2 separate regions of the Homo sapiens genome follow, and region 2 is linked to region 1. Evidence: fine-mapped expression QTL. A gene starts in region 1. The other region holds a variant in brackets. All regions are shown on one strand. Distances are between the middles of the regions.

Region 1 (13,796 bases):
CATGTAAATTAGATACATACTAGATGTATACTAGGTCAGGTATACCAGATACATAGTAGATGCATGTATACTAAATCACATATACTAGATACATACTAGATGCATGTGTACCTCTAGATACATGTATGCTACAGATATACTAGATACATGTATCTAGGTATTGAAGGAAATCAAAGTATTTCACCCTGAAATATACTTCTTCAACATATTTTGAGATAGCTGTTCAGAGGGTCTGCAAACAGAAGTAGCCCTGTAATACTGTCTTTTGTGGGGGAGATTTGCATCTGTAGAGAAAATCTGCATTGATGTAGCCAGGCTTTCTCTAAGGCCTTCCCTTGTCAGACTGAGAGCCTGACACCCTTTAAAGGTCTGAACGAAACAATTACCATCTATTCCCTCTGAGGGCTGCTACCTGTGAGGTTTCATCTACATAACAAGACTGCCTTTGCTACCCAGGCCCCCTTTTCTCCCCCTTCCATAGTCTGTCTTGCCACTATAACCTGATTTACCACCAGAAACTGGTTTTGGCCATGTTCGAGCCCCCATTCTTCCTGTAACCTCAGGATGGTATATAGGCTTCTGTACCCATTGTGGGGCTGGGGTGAACACTCTGTGGTTCCCGACCCCACGCTGCAGGCTAATCAATTTGTATGCCATTTCTCCTACTAACCTCCTTTTGTGAGTTGATTTTTCAGTGAACCTTCAGAGGGCTAAGGGGATGCTTTCCTTTGCCTGTACAATGTATACTAGATACCTGCATATTTGCTGTATACTAATACATGCATACCACATATAGACATGTGTATACTTGATATGTACATGTATGCTCGAGACATACTAGCTACATGATCCTGGAAAAGTTATCGCCTCTGAGCCTCAGTTTCCCTATCCATAAAAAGGAGCAGCGGTGCCTTCTTCACGGAAGACTTAAACAAGAGCACAGGCAAAGCCTTTAGGGAGTCACTGAACAAACAGGGTTCCTCCTCAGGCACGGAGAGGTGGAAAAGCTCTGGGGCCTGGGCTTTCCGGAACTAGCCCCCTTTTAGGCCATGGCCCCCTGGCTCTTCCCTCCCTATTCAAGGGGGTTAGGGGCACCTGTGTCATTGGATGAGCAGTGAAAATGTGGCATCCAGATCCTACAACCACAAGATGGGCAGGACTGGTTCTCACAATCACGGGCTTTGTTTCTGAGATGCCACAAAGGCCACGTTTCCCAGGGCAGGGTCGGGGCCGAAGGCGTCTGGGGTCAGAAGCGACCAAGGACTCGAGGTACCATCTGAGGGGTCGGGGCCAGGACAACGGGGGGCGGGGCGGGGTGGAGGCGGCCCTAGGAGCCCAGGTTGCGGAGAGTGTGGGTGGCGGGTACTGAACTGGCCAATCGGAGGCCAGGGAGGAGCGGATTGGAGGAGCGAGGGAAGGGGGCGAGACTGCGCCCCTGCAGACTGGAGCAGGTGGGTGTGGCGCTGGGCCAAAGTGGATCCGCACTGTGGGTTCCGCACCCTGGGTTCCGAGGGCCACCTCCACCCGCGCAAGGCGGGCAAGGACAGAGTAGGGTAAGGGGCTCTCTAACCAGGCAGAAGGAGGGAACACCCAAGAGTCCTTCGGGCAGGGCTGGGGCCTCCAAGGCTGGAGAGTCTCATCCAGGGTTGCTGGGCATGTCCCTCCCAAAGGCAGCTCATTGAGAATTGATTGGTGTGACTTGAAAAATGGGCCCTGGGCACACCGTCAGGAAAAGCTGGTTTACGTAGACTTAATCCCGAGTCTTTCTTTTCTGCTGGGCTCAGTCAGACCTTGCCAAAGCGCAGGAGGAGTTGGGGGATAGGAGGCTTGACACGTGGAGAAGGCCACACGTGCTGATCTGTTTTCCCCAGCGAACACTCCTTTCTCAGATGGGGCAACTGAGACCGACCTCCGGGAGGAGTGGAATTTGTCCCACAGGATATAACACAAAAGTCTTTCTGTTCTTTCAAGCACTTTCCACCTGATACATACAACCACCTAGGAAAACTGCCAGCCGAAATACCTGCCCAGCCCAGTCACTTCACACATGACAGACCCGAGATGGCACTGAGAGGTCAAATACCTGCTAGAGGGAGGGCTGGCCCCACAGGGTGTGGCCCTAACTGCAGGTATTGTGGGTCATCCTTCCGCATCTCCCCCAGTGCCTGCTGCCCCTCCTCCCCAGGGGAGCCCTCACCTGGAAATGGAAGATGCCGGCATAGCCATTCTGGAAGCTCTGGCCGTGCGGAACCACTCGGTGCAGGAGGGTGTCGTTGAGAGTGAGGGAGGCGATGGCCGCCAAGAGCCAGCAGTCCCCTGGGGCAGGAGGGATGCACATTAGCCTGCTCTACCAACCTGCCCCGGGGGGGGAAGCGGGTGCTAGGGAGAATCTGGGGTTCCTTGGCCAGGGTGCCACTTAACTCCCCTCAGCTTGCAGAAAAGACCCAGGAATCTGGGCAAACCAGCCCCAGCGCTGATAGCCAGATCCTGCCTGGGCTTGCAAGAGGGAGGGGTTGGGGCAGAGCCTGAAGGAGCGGGAATGGGGAACTACTGTGGAAAAAATACCCGGGACCCGACGCCCTGGGGGCCTACCCAGTGCTCCCTGGCAGATGTCTGTGCGGGTAGCTCCATCCACAATGAACTGGGGGTTTGACAGCAGTTCCTACGAGAGACCCAGAGTCCTGTTCCTCGGCCAGCCCCTCCCAGAAATTGGCACCAGGCCACCCCAGACCCCATTCCCCACCAGGGACATGGAGTCCCATCCCTACTCCTCATCCAGGATCTGGCTTAGCCGAGTCCCACCCAGGATGGCCCCTCTCACCGTGGGACGCTTCCACTTGATGCCATAGGTCTTGGAGGAATTGGGACCCAGGTCCTTGTAACCCAGGCTCTGGGGTACCGGGGGGAAGGCCTCATCACGGAAGAGGGTCCCACTCTGCAGGCATCGCACCCGCAGCTGCTCATAATCCTGGCCCAGGTACTTGATGGCATTCTCATGGCGGCCCAGGCCCAGCTCCCTGGCCCGCTGCTTCTGCACTTGGGCTGACACCCCAGTGCAGTACACCGGCGTGATGATCTCCTCCGACATCCTGCCGGACAGATGGGCCTGCTCAGAACCCAGGCCTTCCCAAGACTAGAACCTGGGCTCCTGCCTGCAAGCTCTGCTCTCCTGCCCCTGCTTATCCATCCCCAAACCTAGGGTTTCCCTGCCTCACTGCTCCCCTCACAGAAGTAGGGTTCTCAGCCACCTCCCGGTGCTCCCAGTGAATCCAGGAAAGGGATTTCCCAGTTCCCAGGCGTGCCGGCCACCTCTCCTTTCCCGGATCCCATTGTCAGGGGCTTGCAGCTCTGTAGTGAGCCAGCAGGTCAGGTGGGGCAGGGCGGAGCCTCCAGACAGCACAAGGAACTGGGCAGGTGGGACACAGCAGGGAAGGCCTCTTTGATCCTGTTCACAGGCCTGCAACCCCCTCCCCAAACTAACCAAGCTCCTGGTGCACCGGCCCCTTGCCGTGGGCTGAAAACCCCAGACGGTCGGGGTCCCCCTCCTCAGGCCCCCGCAGCAGGCTCGATATCAGAGCTGGTGGGCCCTAGCCCAGCCCCTGGGGACAGCGGTGAGCCAGGCTGGGACAGGCGCCTGGGCTGTGCCGCTCCGCCAGCCCCCACCCCTGCTCCAGGAACGCAGAGGCCCCCGAGAAGGGACCGTGCTGGGGCAGCCCCTCAGCCCAGGAGCAGTGGCCAGGGTCAAGGAATCCCGGCTCGGCTACCCAGCTTCTTACCTGGGGGAGGGGTGTTTGGGGGTCGCTGCAGTCCCTGAGGCTGGCTTCCCGGTGGCAGCTCAGGGCAGGGCCCAACCAGGAAGAGCGCTCCTCCCCGCCCTCCTCCCGCCGCCCCTCCGCCCTCCGCCCTCCCTCTCTCCTTCTCCTCCTCCTCCTCCTGGGGCTCCTACCCCGCTTCCTCTCGGCTCTCCCTTATCTCTCCGGCACGGTCTCTGACTATCTCTTACTCACGGTGTCTCCCCGCCCCTCCCTCCGCAGGCCGGGGGCCAATTCCGCGAGAGGACAAATTAGTAAAAGGCAGAGCAGTCCCCGGGGAGGGGCCAGCGCGGGGGGGGATGGGGGGGCTGGGGCGCGGCGGAAGGGCACCGCGGGGAACGGAGGGGGAGGGCCGGGCAGGGGGTATTTTTAACCAGGGGCAGCAGCTCGAGTTGCAGGGCCGGACGGCCGCACCCCACGCGCGCCCTGGCGGGCATTCCGGGGCGATTGTGCGGCGGCGCCGCCTCCCGCAGCCCCGGGCCCGCCCGGTCCCCAGCTCCCCTCGCTCCGCGCGACCGCAGCTGCTCCCGCCGTTCCCAGCCAGCCCCGGCGCGGGGCCGAGATTACCTCGGGCTGCGGCAGCTGCTCTGAGGAGGGGCCGGGCTGGCAGCGAGCAGACCCCTGCCGGACACTCAGCAAACGGCAGCCTCACCCCGCAGGGCCGCGCCACTCCCCTTCCCCACCCCACCGCCGCGTCCCGGCTCAGCGCTCCCCGGGGAACGCAGGGGGACCGGGCTCGCTGCGTGACCTTGGGTAAGTCCCTGCCCCGTTCGGCCCGACTTTCCGCATGCGTGCATCCTATGGGATGGGGTTGGGCAATTGTGGGAGCCCATCTTTCTCTAACGTTCTGGGGTTTCTTGAACCTGGAAACTTAGAGAGGTGGACATCCCTGTTCTCTCCCCCAGGCTCTCAGCCCACCCACCTGGAAGCGCCCATGTGTCACCTTACCCAGGAGAGGGCGGCAGAGGCTGCGAGCAGGACGGCAGCCCCCTCTCCCCACCCCCAGGACCCTGAGATCCTGCTTCACGGGCTGCAAGAAGTTGGGGGGCCAGGATTCGGCGCGGAGGCCGGGGGTGTGGGTGGGGAGACTGCAGAGACTCCCGAGACCCCCCCAAGTCAGGGCTTTTCGCTGGTCTCGCAGCCCCAGCCCAGCAGCTGCTGCAGTCTTGCATGTTGTGGATGCAAGCATTTTGCTGAGGAAACTGCATAGCGTTCCCAGGACTCTAGGGCCCACGACCCCTCAAAAGTTAAGAGCCGCTGATCTAATCTAACCCCACTTTCACCCTCAGTTAACAAAAGAGGAAAACTGAGGCCTGAGAGGGTGTGACTTGCCTGAAATACCTAACCTGGTGAGTGATGGGTGGAACCAGCTCCTAGGCTTTCTGCGCAGGTGTCCAGGGACAGAGAAGGGTGGTTTAAACTAGAGAGGTGGCAGGCAGAAGTAGATGGATTTGATAACTATTTAGGATACACCATCAAAATTTAACTCAAACTGGATTACACACCTAAATATAAATGGCCAAACCATAAAACTTTTTTTTTTAAAAATGGAGACAATCTTAACAATATTGGGTTTGAAAAGATTTCTTTTTTCTTTTCTAAAGGCAGGGTCTTGCTTTCATTGACCAGGCAGGAGTGCAGTGCCCTGATCACAGCTCACTGTAACTTTAAACTCCTGGGCTCAAGAGATCCTCTCACCTCAGCCTCCTGAGTAGCTGAGACTACAGGCACGTGCCACGACACACAGCTAATTTTTAAATTTTTTGTAGAAATGGGGTCCTGCTGTGTTACTCAGGCTGGTCATGAACTCCTGGGCTCAAGCAGTCCTCCTGCCTGAGCCTCCCAAAGTGCTGGGATTACAGGTGTGAGCTTTGGCACCTGGCCAGATTTCTTAAATATGACACAAAAAGTGTAAATGATAGAAGAAATCAATAAATTGAACTTCATCAAAATAAAACGCTTTTGTTTCTCAAAATGCACGAAACTATTAAAAATGAAAAGATAAGCCATAGACTAGGACGAATATTTGTAAAAATTCTATCTGATGTAGGACTTGTATAAAGAACTTTTACAATTGAATAAAAATCCAATAAAAATGGACAAAACATTTGTTTGTTTTCTGGTGTTTGTTTTTGTTTTTGAGATGGAGTCCCGCTCCATCACCCAGGTTGGAATGCAGTGGCGCGATCCTGGCTCACTGCAACCTCCACCTCCTGGGTTCAAGCAATTCTCCTGCCTCAGCCTCCCCAGTAGCTGGGATTACAGGCGCCCGCCACCACACCAGGCTAATTTTTGTATTTTTAGTAGAGACAGGGTTTCACCATGTTAGCCAAGCTGGTCTCAAACTCCTGACCTCAAGTGATCTGCACGCCTCTGCCTCCCAAGGTGCTGGGATTACAGGGTGAGCCACCGCGCCTGTCAAAAAATGGACAAAACATTTGAACAGACACTTCATCCAAAAAGATCTCTGGATGGCAAATAGGCACATTAAAAAACACTGAGTGCATTACTCTTAGGGAAATGCAAATTAAAGCCACTAGAAGGACTGCTTCTAAAAGAACACCTACTAGAATGGCTAAAAGTTAAGATCAACCATACCAAGTGTTGTTATGTTGTCAAGGATATAGAAGAACTGGAGCTGTCATACACCAAGAGAGGGTAAAATGATCACCACCACTTTGGAAGACAGTTTGGCAATTTCTTTAAAATTTAGCGATACAAAGAAATCAGCCATCAAGCTACAAAAAGACATAGCATAACCTTAAACGCATATTGCTAAGTAAAAGAGGCTGGTATTAAAAAGCTGCATACTGTATGATTCCAATAACTCTATATGACGTTCTAGAAAAGGCAAAACTAGCAATGGTAAAAAGATCAGCAGTTGCCAGGGATTCAGAGGGGTAGGAGAGGGATGGAGCACAGGGCATTTTTAGCACAGCGAAACTATTCTGTATGATACTGTAATGACGGATGCATGACATGCATTTATCCAAACCTGCAGAATGTACAACACTAAGAGTGAACCTTAATGTAAACTATGGACTTGAATTAATAATATTGTGTCAATATTGGTTCATCAGTGATTACAAATATACCACAGGCTGAGCGCAGTGGCTCACCCCTGTAATCCCAGCACTTTAGGAGGCTGAGGTGGGCGGATCACATAAGGTCAGGAGTTCGAGAGACGAGCCTGGCCAATATGGCGAAACCCTGTCTCTACTAAAAAATACAAAAATTAGCTGGACGTGGTGGTGGGCTCCTGTAGTCCCCACTACTAGGGAGGCTGAGGTAGGAGAATCACTTGAACCCAGGAGATGGAGGTTGCAGTGAGCCAAGATCACACCATTGCACTCCAGCCTGGGCGACAAGAGCAAAACTCCGTCTCAAAAAAAAAAAAAAAATAGAACTTAGTCACTGGTTAGATATGGCTCTTGGACACCAGGAGAGACCAAAGACAACTTCAGACCCTGGATCTGGCTTGAGCACCTGAGTAGATTAAAGAGAAGGGGGAATGCACTAAGCTGGAGGGACAGTATGGGATCAGGGTATGGGGTATCTTTGGGATCCCCCTATCCAAGAGGAGATTCCTAGGGGTGAGGAACAGACCTTGTGCTCAAAATAGAGGTACAAATTTGGGAGTCACTAGCCACCAAAAAGCAGAGGCAAGGGGGCTGACACCTTGGTCTTCATATGAAGATGCTTCATATAGATGTCAATTCTCCTTAAATTAATCTCTAAGTGTATCACAATGAAAAATTTTAAGAGTCTTCTGGTGGGAGATAAGGAGGGACTAGAAAAGCTGATTTAAAGGTCATATGGCAAATTAAACAAGTAGGAAACTTCTGAAAATAAAAGACATAATGAGTATAGACTAATCCTACCAGATATTAAAACACAACAAATCTATCATTAAAAGGTAATAATTAAAGAGGGTTACTGACACATAGAGATCAATAGAAGACAGAGAAATTTAGAAACAGATTCAAATACAGGCAGGAATGTAGTAGATGATAAAAGTACCATTTCTAATCTGTTGAGAAAAGATGAGTTAATAAAAGACATTAGGAAGAAAAGGGAGCAATCTGGAAAAAAAGTAAGTTGGATTCATAATTTGTATCTTAGAAAAAATTACAGATGAACTCAATTTATAGGTTTGGAATATGTTGTTCCTAATGAAAAAAACATTTAAAAAGGCTGGGTGTGGTGGCTAACACCTGTAATCCTAGCACTTTGGGAGGCCAAGGTAGATGGATCACCTGAGGTCAGGAGTTCACGACCAGCCCGGCCAATATGGTGAAACCTCGTCTCTACTAAAAATACAAAAAAAAAAAAAAAAAAAGCTGGGCATGGTGGGTGGCAGGCGTTTGTAATCCCAGCTACTCGGGAGGCTGAGGCAGGAGAATTGTTTGAACCCAGGGGGCGGAGGTTGCAGTGAGCCGAGATTGCACCACTTCACTCCAGCCTGAGCAAAAGAGTGAGACTCCGTCTCAAAAAAATAAATAAAAATTTTTTTAAAAATTAAAAAATAAAAACTCTAGGTCTGGTGTGGTATCTCACACCACCTGTAATCCCAGCATTTTCGGAGCCTGAGGTGGGAGGCTCTCTTGAGCCTAGGGGTTCAAGGCCTCAGTGAGCACCGCTGCACTCTAGCCTGGGCAACAAAGCAAGACTCCATCTCTAAAAAATCAATAAAAAATAGGCCAGGCGCGGTGGTTCATGCCTGTAATCCCAGCACTTTGGGAGGCTGAGGCAGGTGGATCACGAGGTCAGGAGATCAAGACCATCCTGGCTAACACGGTGAAACCCCATCTCTACTAAAAATACAAAACGAATTAGCCGGGCGTGGTGGCGGGCGCCTGTAGTCCCAGCCACTTGGGAGGCTGAGGCAGGAGAATGGCGTGAACCCAGGAGGCAGAGCTTGCAGTGAGCCAAGATTGCGCCACTGCACTCCAGCCTCGGCGACAGAGTGAGACAACGTCTCAAAAAAAATAAATAAATAAAAATAAAAATTAAATGTTAACCTTCAATATTTAAACGTACAAAAATGAAAACGAAAATACAGCCAGAAGCTGGCTGGGCACGGTGGCTCATGCCTGTAATCCTAGCACTTTGGGAGGCTGAGGTGGGTGGATCACTTGAGGTCAGGTGTTCAAGACCAGCCTGGCCAACATCGTGAAACCCTATCTCTACTAAATATACAAAAATCAGCTGGGCATGGTGGCACACACCAGCAATCCCAGCTACTTGGGAGACTGAGGCACAAGAATTGCTTGAACCCGGGAGATGGAGGCGGAGGTTGCGGTGAGTGGAGATCGCACCATTGCACTCCAGCCTGGGCAACAAGAGCAAAACTCCATCTCAAAAAAAAAAAAAAAAAAATACAGCCAGGAGCTAAAGGAGAAACTTTTTGTATCATCTCAGTGTGGAAACAGTCTTTTTAACTATGACACAAAACCCAAAAGTCATAAAATTGCATTTTTTACTACATTAAAAATCCATACAGTTATGTCAAAATGATGGACTGAAGAAAACATTTACAATTAACATCTTAAAGGAGTATTTTTCTCCATATACATATATAAAAAATCATGTTCTGGGTGTGGTCGCTCATTCCTATAATCCTAACACTTTGGGAGGCCTAGACAGGAGGATTGATTGAGGCTAGGAGTTTGAGACTAGCCTGGGCAACATAATGAGACCCCATCTATAAAAAAATTAGAAAATTAGCCAGGTGTGGTGGTGCATGCCTGTCATCCCAGCTACTCCAGAGGCTGAGATGGGAGGGTGGCTTGAGCCCAGCAGTTGGAGGCTGCAGTGAGCTATGATTGTGCCACTTCCCTCCAGCCTGGGCAATAGAGCAAGATGCTGTCTCTAAGAATAAAATAAAAGTAAATCCCAGCACTTTGGGAGGCCAAAGTGGGTGGATCGCTTAAGCCCAGGAGTTCGAGATCAGCCTGGACAATACGGTGAGACCCTGTCTGTACCAAAAATACAAAAAGTTAGCTGGGCATGGTGGCCTGTAGTCCCAGCTATCCCAGAGGTCGAGGCTGCAGTGAGCTGTGATCGCACCACTGTATTCCAGCCTGGATGACAAAGCAAGACCCTGTCTCAAAAAAAAAAAGTTCACAAATAAAAGAAGACAAATAGGTCTTAAACATATGACAAGATGTTGAGCTCACTGAAAAGCAAATGTGAATTAAAATTTCACCAAGAGACTGTTTCCCACTTAGCAGTTTGGCAAAGATAAAAATCTGGCACCTCACGGCTGGGTGCGGTGGCTCACGCCTGTAATCCCAGCACTTTGGGAGGCCGAGGCAGGCAGATCACGAGGTCAGGAGGTCAAGATCAGCCTGACCAACATGATGAAACCCCGTTGCTACTAAAAATACAAAAAAAAAATTAGCCGGGCGTGGTGACGCACATCTGTAATCCCAGCTACTCAGGAGGCTGAGGCAGGAGAATCGCTTGAACCAGGGAGGCGGAGGTTGCTGCAAAGCATGGTGAGGCCCAGGTGAAGATCTGGAGGCACTCCTATGATGTCCCACCACCTCCAATGGAGCCCAACCATCCTTTCTATAGCAACATCAGTAAGGATCGCAGGTATGCAGACCTCACAGAAGATCTGCTACCCTCCTGTGAGAGTCTGAAGGACACTATTGCCAGAGCTCTGACCTTCTGGAATGAAGAAATAGTTCCCCAGATCAAGGAGGGGAAACGTGTACTGATTGCAGCCCATGGCAACAGCCTCCGGGGCATTGCCAAGCATCTGGAGGGTCTCTCTGAAGAGGCTATCATGGAGCTGAACCTGCCGACTGGTATTCCCATTGTCTATGAATGGGACAAGAACTTGAAGCCTATCAAGCCCATGCAGTTTCTGGGGGATGAAGAGATGGTACGCAAAGCCATGGAAGCTGTGGCTGCCCAGGGCAAGGCCAAGAAGTGAAGGCCAGCAGGGAGGATACTGTTCCCAGGAGCACCCTCCCTGCCTGTCTTGTCCCTCTGCCCCTCCCACCTGCACATGTCACACTGACCCCATCTGTAGACATCTTGAGTTGTAGCTGCAGATGGGGACCAGTGACTCCCATTTTCATTTTAGCCATTTTGTCTCCTGCACCCACTCCCTTCATACAATCTAGTCAGAATAGCACTTCTAGAGCACAGGTTCTCAGTCCAAGCTGTGGAAAAGCTCCCCTTATCCAACAGAGTTTAAAAGTAGTGACTTGGGTTTTTGCGAGTTGCTTTGTTTACTAAGGACTTGTGGGGAGGAACCATGCTAAGCCATGACCAATGAGGAGAAGCAACAGAGCCTGTCTGTCCCCAGGAGCCAGTCCTCTGCTCGTCTGCAGTCAGGCCACTGCCTGAGGGCTCTAGTCATTCCAGTGGAAGATGAATGTAACCTGCATGGTGATGTGACAACTGTTTCCTCCCTGACGCCAGAGGAGCTGGCTCTAGAAGGTTGGGATCAATCCTGAATTTAGTTATGTGTTACATTTAATTTAAGAAGTATAGTATATATAAATAATACAAAACAATAACCCTTCTGGGGTTTCTCGTGGCGGTTGAAATAGTCCCACATGTAGTCATCAGAAAATAAGCCATTCCTCATACCAATATAGGATCAGCTCCTTGACCTCTGAGGGGCAGGAGTGCTTCCTGGTGTGGGTATTACAATCCCTTCCTGCCTTGTTTCGTGACAGTGAAATGCCTCTTGGTCCTGTCCAAGTATGTCTTTCACTGATTTCTGAATCATGTTCTACTTGCTTGGCCCTGCCACATGGGTCCAGTGTTCATCTGAGCATAACTGTACTAAATCTTTTTCCAGATCAGTATAATAAAGGAGTGATGTGAAAAAAAAAAAAAAGAAAGAAAAAAAGAAATTAACCCTTTTGAGTCCTCATGTCTCTTGGGGGAGGGGGGTTGTTTATTATAATTACAATATTATATTTGACTGTAGCTCAAGGAAGGGATCAAGTCTTATTCCTAAGTAAACCTGGCCCTGAAGGCATTTCTAGACTAAATAAAGAGCTGTCTTCCATTCAAGTTTTGTTTCCCAATATGTTCCTGGCCTTTTTTTTTTTTTTTTTTGAGACAGAGTCTCACTCTGTCGTCCAGGCTGGAGTGCAGTGGCATGATCTCAACTCGCTGTAACCTCCGCCTCCACAGTTCAAGCAATTCTCCCACCTTGGCGTCCCGAGTAGCTGGGATTATAGGCACCTGCCACCATGCCTGGCTAGTTTCTGTATTTTTAGTAGCAAAGGGGTTTCACCATGTTGGCCAGGCTGTTTTTGAACTCCTGACCTCAAGTGATCCACCCGGCTCAGCCTCCCAAAGTGCTGGGATTACAGGTGTGAGCCACCACGTTCGGCTCCCTGGCCCTCTTCTAAGGGCTGCAGATACCTCATCTCATTTAATCCCATCTAGACTGTGTAGATCTCATCATCCATAGGCATGGATAGCACAGAGATGAAACTGAGGCTCAGAATAACTGGCCACCAATGGGAAGGGGCCAAGCTGTTACAGAGCCTGTGCTCACATGTTGTAACCCTGGTAGATACCCCCTCCCCACCCCAACCTTGGGTCAAGGAACCAGGCCAGGACCTAAGCACAGTTGGTGTCCTGTGGACATGAATTTATTAGAGGGGACTGGCACCAGAGTGGGCACAAGCTGCAGGCTGGGAGGAAGGGGCAGGGGTGGGAGCACAGCCAATGGTGTGTCAGTCAGTGGGCCAGCAGGCGTGCTGTTCTTCACCCTGCAGAGCTTCAGTGCCCAGGGCGTGCCGGAGGCTTTGGGAAGACTGGGGAGAGGAAAGAGTGAGGCTCAGAGAAGAAACCTGCCAAGCTCACACGGGAGGGGCAGCACGTCGACCCCAGGCCCATGGCCCTCTCTCTCATATTGTTGGTCCTCACTCCTGCCTCCCAAGCTCCCACACCAGCCCCCAGCTCCTGTCCCATCCTGCACTCACTGCGGAGGGAGTAGGTGCCTGGTTCCAGTTGCATCTGGGGAGGCAAGACGATGAGAAAGTCCCCACCCCAGGCGTTTTTGACCCTTGAGAGATAATTTTGGGAGGGAGGGCGATGACATTCAGAGGTCAGAGAAGGGCACTTGGATGACACAGGCTTAAGCAAGTGGCTGCTGCAGTGCTGGGGCAAACCACAGGGGGAACAGTGGGGCGGCGAGAGGCCAGGGCCCCGGGGAAGGCGAACAGGGACCTGTGGACAGACCCTCTGAACCCCACCATGGTGGGGGCGCCGGTCCCGAGTCCAAGCCCAGTGGAATGGCTCCTTTGCCATGACCTGGGAGGAGCAGAGTGGACAGTAAATGGGGTGGGAACCCCAGCCTTCCCCACACCCCAGGTTGCCTCCCAGCCTCACCTCCTCACAGCACTGGCGGCTCACAACAGCCCGGAAACCCATCCGTGCCCAAAGCTTATCCCTCTGGTGCAGGAATTTCCCCACTCGTAAACACCAATCTTTTCCCAGGGCCCATGGAAAAATCTCACATTTGGGGCCCTCCAGGTCCTCCTCCATGTCGTTTGCAAGGTACCTAGCCACAGAGGCACAAGGTCAGGGAGCAGAGGCCACACATCTGCCCTGTCCCATCTGACACCTCCAGCAAATGCCTCCACTGCCTGCCCCCACCACTCACAGGGCCAAGAACAGGCTGCTGTGGGTATACTCGCTGAGCTTCAGGTGGGCGCGCTGGAAGTAGACCAGCACCATGGCCAGGAGATACTGCAGAGACAGATCGGGGTGGGGGGTTAGTTATTCTCTGAGGAGGAGGGGCTTGCACCCAGGTTCATTTGCACCCAGGGAGGTTTTGCTGCAGGGAAAGAAAGTCAGTAAAATGGTGGGAAGTGGTGTGCAAAGATGAGGGGGTAAGGATGGAAGGTGAGTGGCTCTCCCTACCAGACCAGGGCACTCAATTCCCACCAACTCAACCTGACCCTCAAGAGACCCCCAGCCTGTACTCCCTCACCTTATCTG
Region 2 (16,924 bases), 34 kb after region 1:
AAATGCAAGGTTAGAGATGAGAAAACTGATGAATCTGATTTGCCCCCTTAACAGATTACAGGAGAAAATTGAACAATCTCAAGGATTGCAGAGAGTGCATCTTGCCATGTGCAGTGAACTAGACCCCACAAGTGCATATCACACCATGTAGTAGGGGACTTGAGGCAAGGAGCAGCAGGAGAGGCAGTGGCTGCGCAGAAAGTCCTTTGGGCCAGTTGTTGAGAGAGCATCTCGAGTTTGGGAGCCTTATCTGGAATGTGTCAGCTTTGCCCTAAATAAATAAAAATTACCCCACACTTTGTGGTTTAAATGAAAAAAAAAATGTATTATCTCACAGTTTCTGTAGATCAGGAATGTGGGAGCATTAACTTGGAGGTTCTGCCTCACAGTCTCTCGTGAGGTTTGCAGTCAAGATACTGGCCAGGGCTACCGTCTTCTGAGGGTTTGTGTGGGGCTGGAGGATCGCCTTCCCAGGTGGTTCACTTACACGGCTATTGGCTGGGGGGCCTCAGTTCCTCACCATGTGAACCTGTCCACAGGGCTGCTGAGTGTCTCATGACATGGCAGCTGGCTTCCCCAGAGCAAGAGATCCAAGAGACAGTGCAGACAGGAAGCCAAAGTGTGTTTGTGCCAGCTCTCCTAGGTCTCTCACCATCACTTTCATTGATTCTATTCTTTAGAAGTGAGTCACTAAGTCCAGTTTACATTCGCGGGAGGGGAGCGAGGTTCCATGTCTTGAAAGGAGGAGTATCAGGCCAGGCGCGGTGGCTCACACCTGTAATCCCAACACTTTGGGAGGCCAAGGCGGGCAGATCATGAGGTCAGGAGTTCAAGACCAGCCTGACCAACATGGTGAAACCCCATCTCTACTAAAAATACAAAAATCAGCCAGGCATGGTGGCACGCACCTGTAATCCTAGCTACTCAGGAGGCTGAGGCAGGAGAATCACTTGAATCTGGGAGGCAGAGGTTGCAGTGAGCCGAGATCGTGCCACTGCACTCCAGCCTGGGTGACAGAGCGAGACTCTGTCTAAAAAAGAAAGAAAGAAAGAAAGAAAGAAAGAGAGAGAGAAAGAAAGAGAGAGAGAAAGAAAGGAGGAGCATCTAGAATGCATGGACATTCCTAAAACCACCTCACCTGGGAGACTCAAGCCCTGGTTGAACCATCCTACTTGGTGCCTGTACTGGAATAAGAGGAAATCAGACAGCCAGAGGATTGTTTCACTTTCAACTCAGCTACAAAACTCCTTGGCCATTCATGTTCCCTGGCAATCACACTGCAGATGTCTAGAAACTTCGCATTTCCACTTTTTTTCTTACAAAAATGTCATTCAGAATCACATTTCCACTTTCTGAGGTAACTAATCACACCCTCTCCTCTCTCTGCAAAGCTCCAACATGACTTCTTTCCCTTTTTCTTTTTCTTTCTTTGCTTTGAGACAGGGTTTCACTGTCACCGAGGCTGTTTAGTGCAGTGGCTTGATCTCTGCTCACTGCAACCTCTGCCTCCTGGGCTCAAGCCATCCTCCCACCTCAGCCTCCTGAATAACTTGGACCACAGGTGCGTGCCACCAAGCCCAGCTAATTTTTTGTAGAGACAGGGTTTCGCCATGTTGCCCAGGCTGGTCTTGAACTCCTGGGCTCAAGCAATCTACCCCCCTTGGCCTCCCAAAATGCTGGGATTACAGGTGTGAGCCACTGCGCCCAGCCTCTTTCCCTTTTTCTTCTCCTCTATTTTACCTGAATCTGCACCTGTACACACTTTCTCTGCCTCCTCTCCTACTAGAATGGAACAGCCATCTTTCTCCTCCTTTCTTTTTTATTTTTATTTTTTTATACAGATAGGGTCTCACTATGTTGCCCAGGCTGGTCTCAAACTCCTGGGATCAGGTGATCCTCCCACCTCAGCCTCCCAAAGTGCTAGAATCATAGGCATGAGCCACCATGCCCAACCTCTCTCTTCCTTTCAAAGCTTCTGGGTCCTCCTCTTCTGCTCGACTCCTCTTCCTTCTTGATTTCTCAAAGTCATCACTTCTCTACACTTCTCTACGTGCTTCCTGGTTTATTTTTTGTCTTTAGTATTCTGTAAGCTTCATAAGGGAAGGGACTTTTTTCTATTTCATTTGCTAATACATTCATGACACTTAGAACAAGACCTGGTTCAAGGTGGGCACTGGATAAATACTTGGGTGAATAATAGAGTGAATGAATGGGAAGAGGGAAACTCCACCCATTCTAGCTGGAAGGAAAAATGAGGAGGCAGGAGGAGCAGGTGTGAGCGGTAGGAGAAAAGGTATGTGCCCTGAATTTCCTGCACTGGGCAGGAGTCTCATGAGGGTAGGTGTCTTTTTGCTCACCCTGGAATCCCAGCACCCAGCCCTGCACCTGGCACATACTGTGTGCTGATTGCCCAATCTGTACCTTAGTGCCCCAGCCCCTTTCTTTGTACTAGTCTTGGGTGATCCATGTTGCCCATGGATCTGTCCCCAGCCTGCCCCTCTATCCTACTTCCCTTTCTCAGATGCTCAGGCCAGCCTGAATTGAGTCCTAATGTGGCCTCACTGCCTGGCTGCCCGTGCCCTGGCAGAGGGAGGGGACATCAGCCTCCTGTCCCTGCTCTGCCCTCCGAGGACACCCAGACTCGAGACAACTGCCTAGGGTGGCAGCCTGCCAAGGGGCCTGAGGTGGCTGTTCCCTGGCTTTGCACAGAAACTGTTGGGAATGACTCAGCCCCGAGACACTGCTTCAATAGGAGGAAGAAGTCACCACAGGCCCTCACTGGAGGTGCAGCGCAGTGTCAGAGAAGTAGATAGAGTGCCTCCCGGCCACACGCCAGCAGGGTGACTCTGGCTGACTTTCTTAGCCTCTTCGAACATCTGTTTTCTTTTCTTATTTTTCTTCCTTTCTGTAACCTCAAGAATATCTGTTTTCTCAGTAATAAAATGACTAGTTGCCATGGGGATGAGAAAATGGACCTGTTACAAAGCGCGGGGGTTGAGAGAAGGGCCATGGGGCCACCCTGTCTGGGCTTAAGTCTTTTTTTTTTTTTTTTTTGAGAAGGAATCTCGCTCCGTCACCCAGGCTGGAGTGCAGTAGCGCAGTCTTGGCTCACTGCAACCTCCGTCTCCTGGATTCAAGCAATTCTCATGCCTCAGCCTTCCGAGTAGCTGGGACTACAGGCACCCACCCCCAATGCCTGGCTAATTTTTGTATTTTTAGTAGAGATGGGATTTCACCATGTTGCCCAGGCTGGTCTCGAACTCCCGACCTCAGGTGATCCCCCCACCCTTGCCCTCTCAAAGTGCCGGGATTACAGGCGTGAGGCACCGCACCCGACCTGGGCTTAAATCTTGACTTTGTCTTTCCCTATTAGTTGGGCAAACCTCAGGCAAGTTACTTAATCTCTCTGAGCCTCAGTTTCTTCATCTATGAAACCGATATGATAATAGTACCTGACTCAGGATTGACATAAAGGTTAAAACTGTAACTGCCCAACATTTATTATTCTCAGCCCTGCCCTGAAGGATGTCACAGACACAGAAGTGATTACAATGCAGGGTCATAGGGGCTGTGTTCACACAGGGACAAATGCTGTAGGCACCATGTGGTGGGGAGAGACTCACTCAGGTTCATGGCTGATGCTGGAAATGTGTAAGGGTGTGCACTAAGAATTTTCCAGACAAAGAAGAAAGGGAAAAGCATGCTACTTTATATAGGTTTGAGCAAAAGTGAAGATAGCTAGGCTGAAGAGGCAAGCAGAGTTTGGGGAATGAGACAAGTTAAGTTTGACCACAATACAAAGTGCATGATGAGGGCCGGGTAAGGTGGCTCATGCCTGTAGTCCCAGACTTTGGGAGGCTGAGGTGGGTGGATCACCTGAGGTCAGGAGTTCGAGACCAGCCTGGCCAACATATGAAATCCCATCTCTACTAAAAATACAAAAATTAACTGGGCATGGTGGCAGGTGCCTGTAATCCCAGCTACTCAGGAGGCTGAGGCAGGAGAATTGCTTAAACCCAGGAGGCGGAAGTTGTTGTAAGTCGAGATCACACCACTGCACTCTAGCGTGGTCGACAAGAGTGAGACTCCGTCTCAAAAATAAATAAATAACAAAGTGCATGATGAGGATTTGGTGGGGTTAGGAGGCAGGCTGGAAGCATATCATGCAGAAATCCAAATGCCCCCTTAGAAAGGCCTTTGTCAGATTAGCAAGCTCACACTTGTCACTGAGCATCTGTCTCAGCCTTCTCCCAGCTGGCTGCCTGGACCACAGAGGCTGGAACGGTAAAAAAAAAAAAAAAAAAAAAAAAAAAAAAAAAAAAAAAACCACACAAAACTTGAGTTACATATATTCCTTCTGGTTTTTTTTTTTTTTTTAAAAGACTGAGTTTCACTCTTGCTCCCCAGGCTGGGGTGCAGTGGTGTGATCTCGGCTCACTGCAATCTCTGTCTCCTGGGTTCAAGTGATTCTCCTGCCTCAGCCCCCCAAGTAGCTGGGATTACAGGCATGTGCCACCATGCCTGGCTAGTTTTTTATTTTTAGTAAAGATGGGGTTTCTTCATGTTGGTCAGGCTGGTCTTGAACTCCCGACTTCAGGTGATCCGCCCCCTTGGCCTCCCAAAGTGCAGGGATTATAGGTGAGAGCAACCGCACCCAGCCTCCTTCCACAGTTTCAATCATGTGAGACTTACATTTGGAACTAAGTGGAGTCGAGGGAGACAGGTAGCAGCCCTCGGGCACTCCTTCTGCTGGTGTGGTTCCAGCAGGGATAGTAAGGCTGGGCCCACTGCACTGTGGAGCTTTCCAGATTCTGGGCTTGCAGTTAGTGTCTCACCTGAGCAGCTGAGTATGCACTGCCTGTGACAATGCCACTCCAAGTAGATCTGCCAGGGACCCTTCCCAGGAAATTATTTATAACAATTCCAGCAGAGATGGCTTCTCATCCTCCTTGAAGCTACTGGACTCTGAGCCCCTGATTCTGCCACAGCTCATCACTCTAGACCTGTCAGGCTTAACACAATTCACTTATCCAACCATTCAATCATCCATCATCCACTTAGCCAATCCAGTCTTTTTTTTTTTTTTTTTTTTTTTTTTTTTTTTTTTTTTTTTTTTTTTTTGAGACAGAGTCTAACTCTGTCAGCCAGGCTGGAGTGCAGTGGCGCTATCTTGGCTCACTGCAACCTCGACTTCCTGGGTTCAAGTGATTCTTCTGCCTCAGCCTCCTGAGTAGCTGGGATTACAGGCACGCATCACCATACCTGGCTAATTTTTATATTTCTAGTAGATATGGGGTTTCATCCTGTTGGCCAGGCTGGTCTTGAACTCCTGACCTCACTCAGATGATCCACCTGCCTCGGCCTCCCAAAGTGCTGGGATTACAGGCGTGAGCCACCACGCTCAGCCCAATCATTTGTTGACTCACTTCTTCAACACTCCCTGAGTTCTTATTCTGTGGCAGGCCCTGGGTCTGGGGCCAAGAACAGGGAGTCAAATTAGATTAGGGCTGTGAAACAAGCCACTCTCAAACCTAGAGGCTTATGACAATACCAATCATTTATTTTCTTACCATTATGCAATTTGGGCAAGGCCTGGTTGAGACAGCTCTTCTTGTGCCTCCAGCTCCATCCTTGGAGCTGGAGGACCCTTCAAAGATGGTGCACTCCAATGGCTGGCAAGTTGATGCTGGCTAGAGCTATTTATTTATTTATTTATTTATTTATTTATTTATTTATTTAAATTCCCCCAGCCAATTGGATGGTAGGGCTAGAGCTTTTTATTCCCTATTTTTTTCATTTTTAAACTTTATCTCCCTTTAGGGGTACACTGTTCCTGGAGGTACTGCAATGCTAGGTAAATGTGTGGAGTGGGTGGGGCAAGCTCCTATTCCATCTCTTAGTTCCAAAAATCTATTTAATATAGATTGTGTCCTCGAATAGAGGACATATCAGATATTAAACTGATAAGAACAGATACTACACTTGATCTTACCCAAAAGGCTGAGAATGGAGCTTTGATTCTCCTCTACATGGGCCTCCCCACAGGACTGCTTGGGCTTCCTCACAGCATGGTGGCTGAATTCCAAGAGAAGAAAACAGAAGCTGCCAGTTCTGTTTTAAAGGGTAAGCCCAGAATTGGGCACAGCTTCATTTCCACCATATTCTACTGGTTCAAAGCAAGTCATAGGCCAAGTCCAGAATTAAGGGGGTGGAGAAGTAAACCCCACCTTTCCATGAGGGACGGGATAAGGAATTTATGAGCATTTATAATCCACAAACCTAACTAGGAGTGCAGTTTCATGCTGCTTGGATTGAGGAATTGACTGGTTGGATAACTGACTGGGTTTGATTAACACAAACTAAGGATTATTTCTCATTATATCTGTTTCCACATGGTGGACCTTTTCTGGAGTAACTAACACTGCAGAAAAGTGGCCTTGTCCCACTTTCTCTCACTCACCCCTCCCAAGAAGTAGAAAAGAGAGTTTTCTTGGTGAAGTTGTTAGAAGCAACTATGTATGGGACCCAAAGTGAGGTAGGAGGCAGGTCTCAATTCTGGAGGTGGGGCTGGGACACCAGACCAAATTGAGGACTTGCTAAAACAGGGATGGGGTGGAGGCAGCTTTCCATAAGACACACCCACCAGTGTGCCATGTCAGTTTACCATTGCCATGGTAACACCTGGAAGTTACTGCCTCTTTCTGTGTTAATGACCAAACGACTCAGAAGTTACCACCTTATTTTTAGAAATTTCTGCATAATCTTCTCCTTAATTTGCATATAATTAAAAGTGGGTATAAATATGACTGCAGAACTACCTCTGAGCTGCTACTCGGGGTAGCCCTGGTGTGCAAGGAACAGTACATCTGCTGCTGCTGTGCACTGCCACTTCACTAAAAGTGTCTGTCTAACAGCACTGGCTCACCCTGGAATTATTTCCTGGACAAAGCCAAGAACCCTCCCGGGCTAAGCCCCAATTTGGGGGCTTGCCTACCCTACATCAAAAGAAGGAGAAACCTTTGGGAGCAGAGTGGGTAAGTCTGTGCAGCTCTGGGACGGGTACAGGGACTTCAAATGCATTTTCTCAACAACTCTATTGGTTACAGAAGTAACATTTTTATCTCTATCCTATGTGTCTGTTTTTCAGATGGTACTAAACTTGGTCAGGGAAAGACAGGGTGTTACATTGTATGCCCTGTAAAAACCCTTGCTCTAAATCTGTCACATACTTGGCACTCAAGAAAAACATGTTAAATGTTAACTAAAAGAATGTTGACATCAGGTGTGAGAGGTTTTCTTCTTCTTCCTTTTTTTTTTTTTGAGATGGAGTCTCGCTCTGTCGCCCAGGCTGGAGTGCAATGGTGCAATCTCGGCTCACTGCAACCTCCACATCCTGGGTTCAAGCTATTCTCCTGCTTCAGCCTGCCAAGTAGCTGGGACTACAGGCCGGCACCACCATGCCCAGCTAATTTTTGTATTTTTAGTGGAGACGGGGTTTCACCATGTTGGCCAGGGTGGTCTCGATCTCCTGACCTCGTGATCCGCCCGCTTCAGCCTCCCAAAGTGCTGGGATTACAGGAATGAGCCACCGCGCCCAGCCGGGAGATTCTTCAAGCAGTCATTATATCAACAGACACAGATGTTTCCCTTTCTTCATATGACGAAGCTCAGGGATCCAAACTTATTCGTAAAGCTAAAGAGACACCATTGGTACCCGTTGGAATAGCAGGTTTTGCAGCACTTGTTACATATGGATTATACAAATTGAAGAGCAGGGGAAATACGCAAATGTCCCTTCATCTGATCCACATGCGTGTGGCAGCCCAAGGCTTTGTTGTAGGAGCAATGACTATTGGTATGGGCTATTCCATGTATCGAGAATTCTGGGCAAAACCTAAGCCCTAGAAGAAGAGATGCTGTCTTGGTCTTGTTGGAGGAGCTTGCTTTAGTTAGACATCTCATTATTGAAGTTATGTGTTATTGTGGAAAATAAACTATTTGAGTGGGTTTAGATGGTAACACAGCATTTTGAATATTGGCTTCCTTTCTTGCAGGCTTGATTTGCCTGGTGACTTAATTACTAGTGACTAGTTTACTAACTAGGTCATTCAAGGAAATCAAGTTAGCATAAAAGAAACATGTCACCTAAATGCACTAGATGGTGTTGAAATGTCCACCTTCTTCAATTGTGAAGATGAACTTAAGTTCTAAAGGATATAACAAGCCAACCCTGAAGTACTCCCAGTTTGCTGCAGGATCTCACATGTTTCGGATGTTATATAAGAGTCCTATTTGCCCTAGTTAATTTAACTTTTTTTCTGCCTGTCTTGTGGACTGGCTGGCTCTTTCAGAACTCTGTCTAAAAAGTGCATGGAATAAAACTTGTAAAGCTTCCCACAACTGACAGTATCTATGTGTGTGTGTTTAAACCAAATCTAGAAAGCTTACATTATAGCTGCATAGTAGTGGTATTTATTAAAGAATCACAGTTGTGAACATGAGAATAACTTATGGATTCTAGTTTAGTTATTTTGTAATTGCAGAATTATATTTTTGCTGCTGTTATATCTGAATAATTTTTAAATGTCATCTTGAGATAGAAATATGTATTTAAGCACTCATGCAAAGGTAAATGAGCACCTTTTATTTTATTTTTTTTGAGACGGAGTCACGCTCTGTCACCAGGCTGGAGTGCAGTGGTGTGATCTCAGCTCACTGCAACCTCCATCTCCCGGGTTCAAGCACTTCTCCTGTCTCAGCCTCCTGAGTAGCTGGGACTACAGGTGCACACCACCATCCTTGGCTAATTTTTATATTTTTAATAAAGACAGGGTTTCGCCATGTTGTCCAGGATGGTCTCGATCTTGACCTCGTGATCCGCTGGGCCTCAGCCACTCAAAGTGCTGGGATTACGGGCATGAGCTACCGTGCCCAGCCCAATGAGCACTTTTTAAATGTGTGCATTGCTTATTTTTTCCATAAGAATTACAAACATTAAACTAATCAAATTACCTATAATGGAATTGATTAATGACTTATGAGCAAGCTGGTTTGGCCAGACAGTATACCCAAACTTTTATAAACTATAGAATGTTATTACATTTGTGAAATTTTCTTGTCTAACCTGAATTTACATTTCATGGTGATAACATGGTATATGTACTGTTGTTAAAGTAAGTGACCATCTCAAAAAAAAAAAAAAAAAAGAACGTCAACATCAATTCTGACAGGACAGGAATTTGGACAATGTAGCTTTTACTCATTCATTCTTCCACTAATGCATTCATTCAGCAGACAGTCAAATAACCTGCAATTAGCTTGTGGATCTCTCTACCATGAGACTGAAAGCTCCATGAGGTCAGGGAATGTATTTTGTTCTCCACAATGTCCTCAGAACCTGGCCTGGGGCCTGAACACAGTAGGCCCTCAGTAAATGTTTGTTAATTAAAGGAATGAGATCAGAGGCAAGGGAAGTCCAAAGGCAGTCTAGATAGACCAACAAACTGACCTCATGTGTGGTCAGTCCCACATTCAATGCACACTTCTTGGTGAGGGGGTCATTCAGGGAAAGTTGGAGGGTCTGGCCTTCCAGGCTGGGAGTACCTGGAGTGTTCCACCATGGAAGAGAGAGAATAGTTCCTCATTTTCTCTTTCATGGAGGGAGAATGTGAGAATCCAGATGTTGTTGTCAAAAATGTTGAAAAACTTTTAAGCCGAACGCAGCAGCTCATGACTGTAATCTCAACACTTTGCAAGGCCAAGGCAGGTGGATCGCGTGAGCCAAGGAGTTTGAGACCAGCCAGGGTAACATGGCAAAACCCCATATCTACAAAAAATACAAAAATTAGCCAGGCACAGTGGCGCATGCCTGTAGTCCCAGCTACTCTGCAGGGCTGAGGTGGGAAGATCACTTGAACCCAGGAGTTTGAGGCTGCAGCGAGCCCTGATCATGCCACTGCATTCCAGCAGCTTGGGTGATAGAGCAAGACACTGTCTCAAAAAAAAAAAAAAAAAAAA[G/AAG]CCTGGGCATGGTGGCTCACACCTGTAATCCCAGCACTTTGGGAGGCCGAGGCGGGTGGATCACGAGGTCAAGAGATGGAGACCATCCTGGCCAACATGGTGACCATCCTGGCCAACATGGTGAAACCCTGTCTCTACTAAAAATACAAAAAATTAGCTGTGTGTGGTGGCAGGCGCCTGTAGTCCCAGCTACTTGGGAGGCTGAGGCAGGAGAATCGCTTGAACCCAGGAGGTGGAGGTTACAGTGAGCCGAGGTCACGCCACTGTACTCCAGCCTGGGCGGCAGAGCAAGACTCCATCTCAAAAATAAAATAAAATTTTAAAATACTTATCAATTCATGTTTTCTGTTGTGTCTTAGGTCAGTTTTAGTGCATCTTTTATTTTCTAGGAAATTGTCTATTTCTCCTAAATTTTCAAATTTATTGCCATAAAATTGCACCTACTGCATGCTCATTATTTTTAAATTTCTGCTGTGTCTGTTTATTGCTGTTTTCATTCATTATATTGTCTGCTTGTGCAAACCTTATTTTCTTGACCAGTCTCTCTGGAGATTTGTCATTCTTATTAGTTTATTCAAAGAGCCAGCTTTCAACTTTGTGTATTCTATTTTAGCTTTATCTATTTTCTTTTTTCTTTTCTTTTTTTTTTTTTTAGACAGAGTCTCGCATTGTTGCCCAGGCTGGAGTACAATGGCGCGATCTCAGGTCACTGCAACCTCTGCCTCCCAGATTCAAGTGATTCTCCTGCCTCAGCCTTCCAAGTAGATGGGATTACAGGTGCCCCCCCACCACGCCCAGCTAATTTTTTGTATTTTTAGTAGAGACAGGGTTTCACCATGTTGGCCAGGCTCTTCTCAAACTCCTGATCTCATGATTCGCCTGCCTCAGGCTCCTAAAGTGCTGGGATTACAGGCGTGAGCCATTGCGCCTGTCCTCTATTTTCTTAATTTCTATTTTGTCTTTGTTACTTCCTTACCTATTTTATTGATGTAATTAACATACCACAATTCATTATTTTAAAGTGTACAATTCAGCCAGGTGTGGTGGCTCACATTTGAATCCCAGCATTTTGGGAGGTTGAGGCGGAAGGATCACTTGAGGTCAGGAGTTCAAAACCAGCCTGGGCAACAGAGTGAGACTCTGTCTCTACTAAAAATAAAAAAGTTAGCCAGGCATGATGGCATTTGCCTGTAATGTCAGCCACTTGGGAGGCTGAGGTGGCAGGATCACTTGACCCCAGGAGTTCCAGGCTGCAGTGAGCCATGATCGCGCCACTGCACTACAGCTTTCGCAACAGAGCGAGACTGTGTCTCAAAATAAATAAAGTGTACAATTCGGTCATTTTTAGTATACTCACAAAATTGTGCAAGCATAGCCACTATCTCCTCAGGAACATTTTTATCACTCCTCAAATAATAAACCCCATACCAATTAGCAGTCAGGCCCCATTCCTCACGCCACCAGCCCTTGGCAACCACTAACTACTTCTGTCTGTATGGACTTGTCTATTCTGGACATGTAACGTAAGTGCAGTGATATGAATGCTTTTTTCACTGAGCACAGGGTTTTCAAGGTTCATCAATGTTGTAGCATGAAGCAGTACTTCCTTCCTGTTTATGGCTAAATAATACTCCATTGTGTGGGTACATTACATTTTGTTTAGCCATTCATGGACATTTGGGTTGTTTGTACTTTTTGGCTATTATGAATAATGCTGCTACGAATGTTCTTGTACAAGTGTTTGTATGACCAGATGCTTTCAGTTCTCTTGAACATATACCTAGAAGTAGAATTTCTGGGTCATATGGTAATTTTATGTTTAATTTACTGAAGAACTGCCAAACTGTTTTCCAAAGCATTTACACTATTTTACATTCCCACCAGAAACACATAAGGGTGCCAATTTCTCCACATCTTGCCAACACTTGTTATTGTTGGTCTTTTTTTTATCACAATGATTTTAGTGGGTATGAAATCATCTCTCTATGGTTTTGATTTACATCTCCATAATGACCAGTGATGTTTAACATATTTTTTTGTGCTTATTAACCATTTTCTTTTCTTTTTCTTTCTTTTAGAGATAGGGTCTCTCTCTGTCACTCTGGCTGGAGTGCAGTGGCATGATCTTAGGATCATAGCTCACTGCAGCCTTGAACTCCTGGGCTTGAGCAATCCTCCCACCACAGCCTCTTGAGTAGCTGAGACTACAGCCACCACACCTGGATAATTTATTTTTTGTAGGAGGGGGGTCTCACTATGTTGCCAAGGCTGAGAGGATTGCTTGAGCTCAGGAGTTGGAGACCAGCCTGCGCAACATGGCAAGACTCTGACTCTACAAAAAATACAGTAAACAAACGAACAAATAAAAATTTAAAAGACAGACCTAACCATTCTCTCCCTAATGGATATGTGGTTCTATTGTCTTGTTTCACTATTTCAAACAATGCTGTGGCAATCATCCTTGGACTTAAAATCTTTGGGGTCATGTACAAGCTCTTCAACAAGATAGATTCCTGAAAGGGGAAAATCCAGGTCAAAATGTAAGTTTGCTTTCAACAACTTTTATGTCAACTTAACTGAGATATAATTGTATGTTAATACAATAAGATTTGCCAGTTTTAACATACAATAAGATTAGTCACTTACACAATTTGGTGTGCTTTAACAAACATGTATAAGTCAGGTAATTACCACCACTACCATGATATAGAGAATGTTTCCACTATCCAAAAAGTTTGCTTGTGCCATAGAGCAATCTGTCCTCTCCCCTAGCCTCTGTCCCTGGCAACTACTTGAGATGCTCTCTGTCACTAGTTCTATGAACATATATTTGCATTTATCTTGGGTAACTTAAGAACGGAATTGCTGGGTCATATGGTAAATGTATACTTAACTTTATAAGAAATTACCGAACCTTTTTTCAATATGGCTATACCGTTTTGTATTCCCACCTGCAATCTAAGATAATTCTAGGTGTTCCACATCATTACCACCACTTTGTATGACATCTTTTTAATTTAACTATTCTAGTACTAATAGTATGGCATTGCTTTCAATGAATTTATCTAATAATGATGGTGTTGAGCACATTTTATGGGATTATTCTCATCTGAATACCTTTGATTAAATGTCTGCTCAAAATGTTGGCCCATTTTGTATTAGCTTTTCATTTTTTTATTAGTAAGTTATAATATGTATTCTCAATATGAGTCCTTTGTCAGATATACGCTTGGCAAATATTTTCTCCCAATTTTTCTCCCTTTAACTGTCATTTGAACAGATAAAGTGTTTAGTTAGGATTAAATCCAATTTATCAATTTGTTTCTTTGATAGTTTATGCTATTTGTATCCTATTTAAGACATTTTTGCCTAACCCAACATTACTAAGATTTTTTTGTTTTCTTCTAGAGATATTACAGTTTTATGTTTTACATTTAGACCTACGGTTCATTTCAAGTTAAGTGTTGTATACGATGCAAGGTAGGGAATGAGGTTTTTTGTTTTCATATGGATATCCAATTATTTCAGCACTTTTGTTGAAAAATCATCTTTCGGCCGGGCATGGTGGCTCATGCCTGTAATCCCAGCAATTTGGGAGACTGAGGCAGGCGAATCACCTGAGGTCAGGAGTTCGAGATCAGCCTGACAAACATGGTGAAACCCCGTTTCTACTAAAAATACAAAAATTAGCCGGGTGTGGTGACACGCGCCTGTAATCCCAGCTACTTGGGAGGCTGAGGCAGGAGAAATGCTTGAACCCCAGGAGGTGGAGGTTTCAGTGAGCCAAAATCACACCACTGCACTCCAGCCTGGGTGACAGAGCAAGACTCTGTCTCAAAAAAAAAAAAAAAAAGAAAGAAAAATCATCTTTCACCATTGAATTGCCTTGTTACCTATATTGAAAATCAATATATTGCGGGGCGCGGTAGCTCACGCCTGTAATTCCAGCACTTTGGGAGGCCGAGGCAGGCAGATCATGAGGTCAGGAGATTGAGACCATCCTGGCTAATACGGTGAAACCCCGTCTCTACTAAAAATACAAAAAATTTGCCAGGCGTGGTGGTGGGCGCCTGTAGTCCCAGCTACTCGGGAGGCTGAGGCAGGAGAATGGCGAGAACTCGGGAGGCGGAGCTTGCAGTGAGCGGAGATGGTTCCACTGCACTCCAGCCTAGGCGACAGAGCGAGATTCCGTCTCAAAAAAAAAAAAGAAAATGAATATAAATGTTATTCTATTTCCGGACTGCATTCTGTTTCACTAACCTACATGTGTATCTTTACACCAAAAACCACACTGTCTTAATCACTGTAGCTTTATAGTAGTCTTTTTTATTTTTTTTTTTTGAGACAGAGTCTCATTTTATCACCCAGGCTAGAGTGCAATGGTGGGATCTTGGCTCACTGCAACCTCTGCCCCCAGGGTTCAAGTGATTCTTCTGCCTCACCCTCCCGCGTAGCTAGGATTAGAGGTGCGTAGCTGGCATTACAGGCGCGCACCAACACGCCCAGCGAATTTTTGTATTTTTAGTAGAGACAGGGTTTTACCATGTTGGCCAGGCTGGTCTCAAACTCTTGACCTCAGGTGATCCGCCCACATCAGCCTCCCAAAATGCTGGGATTATAGGCATGAGCCACTACGCCCAGCCTATAATAAGTCTTAAAATCAGGTAGTATAAGTTCTCCAACTTTGTTTATACTTTGCAAGGTTGTCTTGGATATTATAGGTCTTTTGAATTTTCACATATTTTAGAATCAGCATCAATTTTTTAAAAATGCCTACTGAGATTTTGATTGGAATGGCATTAACCCTATAAATCAATTTGGGGGAAATTGACATCATAGGAGTATGGAGTGCTCTGATCCATGGATATAGTATATCTCTCCATTTATTGGATCTTTACTTTCAGCAATGTTTTATACTTTTCAGTGTACAGGTCTTGCACATCTTTGATTATATTTTATTATTAAACATTTGCTTTTTTTTTTGAGATGGAGTTTCATTCTTTCACCCAGGCTGGAGTGCAGTGGCGCAATCTCAGCTCGCTGCAACCTCTGTCTTCTGGTTTCAAGTGATTCTCCTGCCTCAGCCTCCTGAGTAGCTGGGATTACAGGCGCATGCCACCACGCCCGGCTAGTTTTGTGTTTTGTTTTGTTTTGTTTTGTTTTGTTTTGTTTTTTGAGATGGAGTCTTGCTCTGTCACTGAGGCTGGAGTATAGTGGTGCGGTCTCGGCTCACTGCCAGCTCTGCCTCCTGGATTCACGCCATTCTCCTGCCTCAGCCTCCCAAGTAGCTGGGACTACAGGCGCCTGCCACCATGCCCGGCTAATTTTTTTGGTATTTTTAGTAGAGACGGGGTTTCACCGTGTTAGCAAGGATGGTCTCGATCTCTTGACCTCATGATCCGCCCGCCTCAGCCTCCCAAAGTGCTGGGATTATAGGCATGAGCCACCACGCCCGGCCACGCCTGGCTAGTTTTGTATTTTTAGTAGAGAAGGGGTTTCACCGTGTTGGCCAGGCTGGTCTCAAACTCCTGACCTCAAGTGATCTGCCCGCCTCAGCCTCCCAAAGTGCTGGGATTACAGGCGTGAGCCACCGTGACTGGCCAAACATTTGATTTTTTGAAGCTATGTAAATAGTATTTTGAAATTTTCAATTTCTGATTGCTTATTGTTAGTACTTAGAAGTACAACTGCTTTTTGTCGAGGCATGGTGGCTCATGCCTGTAATCCCAATACTTTGGGAGGCCAAGTCAGGAGGATCGCTTGAGCCCAGGAGTTCAAAAGCAGCCTGGGCCTGATAGCAAGACCTTGTAGCTACAAAAAAAATTCTTTTTAATTAGCCTGCCATGATGGCATGCACTCCACCCCAGCCTGAGGAAGTAGGCAATGCTTTTTGTGATATTTGAGGAGAAAGACGTTCCTGGGAGAAGGAAAGACATATGCAAAAGGTGATGGGCCTGCCTGGGGCATGGTAGGGATGGTACACCTGAGACCCCACAACTGGGCATTATGCCTGAAGGGCAGAGTGTGGGAGGGAAGGCAAGACGTGAGCTCAGGTGTCAGGAGATCTCTCTGGCCGTTCTATGGAAAACGGATGAGGAGGAAAGCACAGGAAAGGGGACTGTTGCATTTTCCCAGGCATGAGATGATGATGGTCTGGACTAGGACACTGGCAGTGAAAATGGCAAGGAAAGAATGAATTCTAGAGACACTCAGGAGGTAGAACCCACAGGATGTCCTCTCTTGCCTATTGCACCGCAAGAGCCTCCTAACTGGTTTCCCTGCTCCCACACTTGCCTTCCTCCCCACTACAGATTATTCCAACACAGGAGCTGGAGTGACTTTTTTTTTTTTTTTTTTAGTTTTTTTTGAGACTGAGTCTCGCTCTGTTGCCCAGGCTGGAGTGCAGTGGCACGATCTCAGCTCACTGCAAGCTCCGCCTCCCAGGTTCACGCCATTCTCCTGCATCAGCCTCCGGAGTAGCTGGGACTACAGACGCCCGCCACCAAGCTCGGCCAATTTTTGTGTTTTTTTATCAGAGACGGGGTTTCACCGTGTTAGCCACGATGGTCTCGATCTCCTCACCTCGTGATCCAACCGCCTTGGCATCCCAAAGTGCTGGGATTACAGGGTCAGCCACCACACCCAGCCTGGAGTGACTTTATTACACCTAAGTCAGAGCATGTCACACCTCTGCTCAGCACCCTCCAATGACTTCTCACGTCACTCAGAGGAAAAGCCAAGGTCCCTGTGATGGCCAATGCGATCTTGCCCTGGCCTCTTTCCTACGCACCCTTCACTAGTTCCACTATAGCCACACTCATCTCCTTCAACAAAGCAGCACTGCTCCACCTTTATTGAGCTGTAACTCTTTACCCAGACATCCACTTGGCTCATAACCTCACTTCCT

The links. PIP is the estimated chance that this variant, and not a neighbour inherited with it, causes the effect.
Region 2: its variant is fine-mapped to the expression of CAPN1-AS1 in whole blood (INTERVAL, PIP above 0.99).

Annotation. Positions count from the first base shown.
Region 1 is chr11:65,171,994-65,185,789 of GRCh38, reverse strand. CAPN1-AS1 (CAPN1 antisense RNA 1) reads left to right here and starts at 3,956. Exons shown (of 2, transcript NR_145677.1): 1 at 3,956-4,565; 2 at 4,718-5,919. CAPN1 (calpain 1) reads right to left here and starts at 3,862. Exons shown (of 22, transcript NM_005186.4): 1 at 3,777-3,862; 2 at 2,822-3,089; 3 at 2,593-2,662; 4 at 2,198-2,316. The coding sequence starts at 3,088. It overlaps SPDYC (speedy/RINGO cell cycle regulator family member C), which reads right to left. Exons shown (of 7, transcript NM_001008778.3): 3 at 13,789-13,796; 4 at 13,459-13,544; 5 at 13,185-13,356; 6 at 12,776-13,106; 7 at 12,416-12,607. The coding sequence ends at 12,573. It also overlaps the pseudogene PGAM1P8. RefSeq lists enhancers at 57-623, 1,807-2,596, 2,597-3,385, 3,386-4,175 and silencers at 3,198-3,492, 4,094-4,543.
Region 2 is chr11:65,136,672-65,153,595 of GRCh38, reverse strand. It overlaps the pseudogene HIGD1AP10 and the pseudogene RNU2-23P. Among named protein-coding and RNA genes, the nearest start is that of SYVN1, 11 kb to the right of the region's middle. RefSeq lists a silencer at 703-882 and an enhancer at 2,791-2,840. The variant G/AAG (reference allele first, on the strand shown) is at 10,018.